Linked DNA regions of Homo sapiens. The protein of the gene in region 1 interacts with the protein of each later gene in a pairwise test. Each region holds a gene or a part of one and is shown on either strand. Other genes may lie near its edges.

What was found.
Region 2: the proteins of ANKRD55 (region 1) and TRIM23 interact in binary tests that used the Homo sapiens proteins (3 or more experiments, as listed by UniProt).

The regions. Positions count from the first base shown.
Region 1 is NC_000005.10:56,104,201-56,107,856, forward strand, and holds part of ANKRD55 (ankyrin repeat domain-containing protein 55), read right to left. Parts: intron 1-3,656.
Region 2 is NC_000005.10:65,614,263-65,617,918, reverse strand, and holds part of TRIM23 (E3 ubiquitin-protein ligase TRIM23), read left to right. Parts: intron 1-3,656.

The DNA of each region.
Region 1 (3,656 bases):
GTAGGCATAATCTTATTTAACTCTGACAATCACTTTTTCTTGTGAGATACATTCTATTATCATCCTCATTTTACAAATGAGGACCTTGTGACTTGGAGGAGTTCTAAAAGTGCTCAAGTCACACGCTAGGAAGGGACACAGCCTAGACTTCAACCCTATAGGGCTGACCCTGTAACTTCTATTATTCTGCCTCCTCTAAGCAGATGGGAGCAGTGGGCAAAGAAGGGCTACAGCAGTGACTCGGAGATGAAGGGGAGTTAAACTTTATTCCATGTTGGCATTTTGCTCAGTTTTCAGGGACAGGGTGGAGCCGTGCATAGCCCAAAGCTGTCTGGTGCTGCAGGCAACTCCAGGGAGTGTTCAGCTTTGGGGACAGGGTCAAGGACCACTGTCCTAGAAAAAAAGGATAGGAAATGTTTTCACAGTTACATGATGGAACCCGAGGTGACTGCAGGATTAATAATAATAATAATGATAATAACAATAATAAATAGATAATTCAGCAATCATCCATTGAGCACTCATCATATTCCAGACCCTAGAGTACAAAGAGGAGAAAGCAAGGCGTTCAGGAGGGGATTGCAATTGATGTGGGAGGAAAGACAGGTAAACATATGGTTTTGAAGCTCCATGAGTAGTGCTGTGATAGAGTTTGTGAGGGCATTGCAGAGGAAGGAATGGTCCAGAGAAGTTGAGGTTTTCTGGGATCCCATAGACCTTGTTCCAGTATCTCCTCTGCCACTTCCTAGCTAGCTCTGTGACCTTAGGCAGATGAGCTAACCTCTCTGTCTCAATTTCTTCAGTTATAAAGAGGATAAAATCTCTCCTGCAATGTTGTGGAAAGTGAAGTGTGTAGGTGTGTAGGTCAGCAAGGTGGAGCTATTCTTTTTTTTTTTTTTTTTTGGAGACAGTGTCTCACTCTGTTTCTCAGGATGGAATGCAGTAGTGCCATCGTGGCTCACGGCAACCTCTGCCTCCCGGGTTCCAGCAATTCTCCTGCCTCAGCCTCCTGAGTAGCTGGAACTACAGGCGTGCGCCACCACACCAGGCTAATTTTTGTATTTTTAGTAGAGATGGGGTTTCACCATGTTGGCCAGGCTGATCTTGAACTCCTGACCTCAGGTGATCCACCCGTCTCAGCCTCCCAAAGTGTTGGGATTACAGGCGTGAGCCACCGTGCCCGGCCAGGTGGAGCTGTTCTTATTAGCAGTCCTAAGAAAGAGCCATATTTCCTACAGAGATCAGGGTGACCTTCACATATTATAGAAGGTGAGTTTTGAGCTGGTTCTTAAAAGATTGTAGGAATCGGTCAAGCACACAGTGGAGAGAACCCAAAATAATAACAAGGGCCAAGATGTCATAGAATGGAAAGGTATGAAATTGTCAAGAAACTGAGACATATTCAAGGAACTTCTGAAGAGGTAGGGGTGGGGATTTGAGATGGGCGGTGCAGAAGCTGAGCATGACCATGCCGTGAGGTCTGACCATGCCGTGAGGGCTTTGTTTGCCCAGTTTAGAACCCTGGCCTTTGTCCTGAAAAGATGCAAAACGTTTGATGGGTTTAGACAGAAGGATCACAGGATCAGACCTAACCAGCCAGAAGAGTGCATTGTTGGCTGAGATAGTCTAGAAAATTCTAGAGAAGGAAGCTCTCTTTTGCAGGAGAAAGGAAATGCACACTTTTTTACTTTTCTTGTGACGGCTTATAAATAACCAGGCTAGCAGACAATACCACAGAGCTTTCTGTTCCATTTTCTCTGAAAGCTGCCTGCAATGAATTAAGCTGACGTGCTCCAAATTCCAAGTCTCTAGGATAAGTGCTTCATCCCCCATCTTGCTGCATCCAACCTCTGACAGGTCTCAATAAATGTTAAGCAATAATCATTACAGCTAAATGTTCAGGGCTGCTGATGTAAGCATTGGATAGTGGCTGCCTGGAATTTTAACAGCAGCACTACTAACTCATATTATTTCTACCAAACCCAGGGCAGGAAAGGAGGAAATCCAAAGATAAAGGGACAATCCAAGTTCAAGTCAGTGCTATAGTGGGATGATTTATCCAACTGCTTTACCACATTAAACTTTCACATAAAGTTTCAACTCTCCTAGACTAACAACAACGACAACACCCACTTCAGTGTAGTGCAGAAGCCTCAGTGATCTCAAAACAATTATTGTTAAAAATGATCACAAAAATAAAATCCGTAAGGCTAGGAAAGCTTTTTTTTTTTTTTTTTTTTTTTGAGACATAGTCTTGCTCTGTCGCCCAGGCTGGAGTGCAGGTGCGATCTCGGCTCACTGCAACCTCTGCCTCCTGAGTTCAAGCGATTCTCCCACCTCAGCCTCCACAGTAGCTGGGACTACAGGCGCCCGCCACCACACCTGGCTAATTTTTGTATTTTTGTATTTTTAGTAGAGATGGGGTTTCACTATGTTGGCCAGGCTGGTCTCGAACTCCTGACCTCAGGTGATCCGCCTACCTTGGCCTCCCAAAGTGCTGGGATTACAGGCATGAGCCACCACACCCAGCCTTAGTGGCTCATATCTATAATGCCAGCATTTTGGGAGGCCAAGATGGGAGGATTGCTTGAGGCCAGGGGTTCTAGACTAGTCTGGGTAACAAAGTGAGACCCTTGTCTCTACAAAAAAATGATGACAAAAAAATTAGCCAGAGGAGGAGATGTGTCTGTAGTTCCAGTTACATGGGAGGTTGAGATGGGAGGATTGCTTAAGCCCAGGAGTTTGAGGCTGAAGTGAGCTATGATCAAGCCACAGTACTCCAGCCTGGGTGACAGATCCTATCTCTCTCTAAAAAAAAAAAAAAAAAAAAATCCCTCACTCTCTTTTGATAAATCAACTGTGATAAACACTCAGCAATCATTTAATGTTTGATCAAATGACTAAGCTCCTTTCCATTTTTGAAACCCTATGACTGTATCTAAACATGAGAAGAAAGTCAATTTAAAGTCAGTTGCAGAAGCATTTTAGTAAATCTATACCCCTTAAAGCTGATTTATAGGCTGAAAACACTTGGGAAATTTATCTTATCATGACTCAGTTGCCTAGAATGGCTCCTAGTTATAATCAGCACTCAGAAAAATTGGTTGAAAAAAATATTTGATATAGGCAGATTCCATTGGAGAAATTCACCTTCCCCTTTCTGCTATTCTGCTGTCCCAGGATTTTTCTAGTTATTTCATTGTGTAAGTGAGCAAATCCCCAAACCACGTTTATTGAATTTCTTTTTATTTCAAATAAGATGGAAATTTTTGGGTGGCACATGTGTCAGAATGTACTAACTCTCCATCTAATATCTCCTCCCTCACTTAGAAACAGAAATCCAATTTTGGAGGGATAGCAACGTGGCCAGCTAAAAGACTCCTTGTTGATAGCTGTGAATATATGACCAAAGTTTAGAGGCCAATGAGATGCAAGCGGAAGTGTGGCACTTAAGCCAGATGAGTTCTTAATGGGAGCTGATTCACATGGGGACACGCATTTTTCCCCCTCTCTACTTCCTTCCTCCTGCTCCATCAGCCCCTCGAGGAGAGAAGCCATACATTAGGTGACGGGGCACATAGATGGAAAGAGCCTATGTTGCTTATGATTGTGGAGCCACCAAATGTCTGGGAACTGCCTACTTCAGACTTCTTTCA
Region 2 (3,656 bases), 9.5 Mb from region 1:
TAGTTACTAATTTTATTTTATCTTCTGAGATGTTTATATTCAATACTTATCTGTAAAGAGCTTTAAGACACCTGAGAAAAACGTGCTACCCTGATTCAAATAAATAAGAATGTGTATCACAGAGTGAATCATTTGCCTGAAGCCATAAACCCAATAGAACAATGTTTTCTTTACAAATAAATAAGCCAATAATGAAAATACAGATAAGTCATTTGAGTCTCACCATGTTTTTATTTACTAATATCAAGGACAGAAGTGTTTGTAGCTTGTGATAATTACTCTTTATTTTCTGTTAAAATGAGTTTGAAGGGTTTGTGGCTTTTTTTTGCAGTTTTCTGTATACTTTTAAAACTTTTCTTTACGTATTTCAAACTAAGTTATTTTCAGATACCAGATTTGGAAATAATAGCATTTACTAACATTTGAACAGTTATTTTACAAACGTAAGTTCTGTAAGTTTACTCTTTTTGATAAGGGAGTTTTCTCCAAAAGAGTTTAAGGTTGCCATTTTTTTTCCAGGTCAGTTGCACTATCTAAGACAGTTTTAATATATTCATACTATTTTTCAAGTGGAACACATTCAAAATAATTTATCCACCAAAAAAGGAAGCAAGAGTACCTATAATTTTAGGCTGGAAGACTTTGAAATGCTAAGAAACATGGTTTTAAAATATTTTCTGGAGAAAGAAAAGGATTTTTAAGGTTTTGGTGATCTTTGATGTATATAAATAGTCTATTTGCCTGACAACTAATAGACAGTAATAACATTATAGATAGCATTAACTTACCAGTAGCCAAGAAATAATAGGGATTGGGAAAGTCTCTGTACTTTTATTTGGTCTTTTATTATGTGAAATATGCATATATCATACTATTTCTTTATATAAAACTATACTTAGGCCAGGTGAGGTGGCTCATACCTGTAATCCAGAACTTTGCAAGGCTAAGATGGGTGGATCACCTGAAGTCAGGAGTTCAAGGCCAGCCTGGCCAAAATGGTGAGACCCCTTTTCTTCTAAAAATGTAAAAATTAGCTAGGCATGGTGGTGGATGCCTGTAATCCCAGCTACTTGGGAGGCTGAGGCAGGAGAATCGCTTGAGCCTGGGAGATGGAGGTTGCAGTGAGCCTAGATCACGCCATTGCCCTCCAGCCTGGGCAACAAGAGCAAAACTTGGTCTCAGACAAACAAACAAAAAAACTATGCTTAAAGAAATAGTAATGTTTTTCAAATAGAGAATAGAACCTTTCTTCTACTTTTTTTTTTTTTTTTTTTTTTAAAGCAGAGTGTTACTCCGTCACCCAGGCTGGAGTGCTGTGGCGCGATCTCAGCTCACTGCAGCCTTCACCTCTGGGGTTCAAGCGATTCTCCTGCCTCAGCCTCCTGAGTAGCTGGGATTACAGGCACCTGCCACCACGCCTGACTAATTTGTGTATTTTTAGTAGAGATGGGGTTTCACCATGTTGGCCTGGCTGGTCTCGAACTCCTGACCTCAAGTGATCCACCTCAGCCTCCCAAAGTGCTGGGATTACAGGCATGAGCCACCACACCTGGCTCTTCTACCTTTTTGAAGAGCACTTTACCTTCTCTACATTAATACCACAATGTGAAGAGTTACTATCCTCAATGTTTAACAAAACTAGAAATTTATGACAGGGAACTAGACTGAATACATCCATCCTCCTCTCTGACTTCTCTGAATCCTGAATCAGAATTTCTCTCTAGTCCAAGAAGAATATGAGTAGTTATTAATACCATTCAGCAATATTCCTGATTTTCTTCTGCTCATATGGTGAAATTACACTTCCTTGCCCTCTTACGCATCACTGTGTGATGTTCATTGATCAGTGAAATGTAAGCAGAAGTGAAGTGTTAGCATCCAGGTAGAAGTTAATAAGAGAAGGTTTATGATTTTCAAAGTAAATTCTTCTCCTTGCTGCAGTGAGGTGGTCCAGATGGTTGGAGGCTCGGTAGGCTGTGTCCCTGTTTGTGGTCAGTGGGGAACAGAGTCTCTCTTGTCTTCCCTAATCCCTGAGATGTTGCATGATGCAAAAAATAAATCTTTGTTGTGTTAAGCCATTGAGATTATAGAGTTGTTTTGACACAGAATTAAGTGATATAAATATTAGGCACTACCTAGTAATAATGCTAGAGGTTTATTTGTATATATTCATTATATAGTGACTGGATATTTAGAAAATTGTCAAGACTATATTTTTAAATGATCACTTAGTGTACTTCTTAACCTTTATGTAAATAGATAGAACTCAGCTTGTTGTAGAATATGTGTTAAAAATTAAGGAGAAAGCCTTCTAGGGGCAAGGCTGAGGATAGATATGTTCAGTCCAGTTTTTTTGGGAGAACCACAACACAGAATGGCTTTTTTTTTTTTAAGAGCCAGGAGGAAGGGGGGCCCTGCAGGCAATGACTCCATCAACCTTTTATATATTTATTCATTTAATGAATATGTATTAGGTGGCAGCTATATCAGATGTTATTTGTTGCATAGGAGTTTACCATAACAAATATTCCTTCTGCTAAAGGATCTGACTTTTATTCATAGGTTCAGGAAGAGTGTGTATGTTGTCCTGGGTTACAATGTTATATGTATTTCTTAAGGTAGGTTGCTGCAAAAAGTATTTGAAAATGCTTGTTTTAGCATGTATAGTAAAAGTCAATGACAAAATAGGACTTGTAAAATTAAATGATAGAGAAATAGGCTGGGCACGGTGGCTCACACCTGTAATCCCAGCACTTTGGGAGGCTGAGGCAGTCAGATCACTTTAGGCCAGGAGTTTTGAGACCGGCCTGACCAGCATGGCGAAACCCCATCTCTACCAAAATATACAAAAAAATCAGCTGGGCATAGTGGCACACACCTGTAGTCCCAGCCACTTGGGAGGCTGGGGCACGAGGATCACTTGAACCCGGAAGGTGGAGATTGCAATGAGCAGAGATCACGCTACTGCACACCAGCCTGGGCAACATAGCAAGACTCTGTCTCAAAAAAAAAGTAAAAGAGATTTAAATAATTTTTTTAAACTGTGGCAAAATATATGTATAACATAAAATTTGCCGTTTTAACCATTTCTAAGTTTAGGGACATTAAGTACATTCATATTGTTGTGCAGCCTTTACCACCATAATTTTTTTTATGTGTATTTAGATTTTTTTTTTTTTTTTTTGAGATAGAGTCTTGCTCTGTCATCCAGATTGGAGTGCAGTGGTGTGATCTTGGCTCACTGCAACCTCCACCTCCCGGGTTCAAGCAATTCTCGTCCCTCAGCCTCCTGAGTGGCTGGGATTATGGGCGCCTGACGCCACACCTGGCTAATTTTTGTATTTTTAGTAGAGACGGGATTTCACCATGTTGACTGGGCTGGTCTTGAACTCCTGGCCTTAAGTGATCTGTCCGCCTCAGCCTCCCAAACTGCTGGGATTACAGGCGTGGGCCAAAGCACCTGGCCAAAAAATAATAAATTTTAAAGTGTGTTTCTACTTGGAAGGCTGAAGGATTCTTCTGTTTTTTAAGAGAGCATTAACAAAGCAATTATTTTGGTATTAAAAATGGGGAAAATTTGAATTTTAAAAATTTAGACATTAACTACTGAACTATATTAGAAATTACTTTTGAGGTATGGGTAAAATGATTAATAG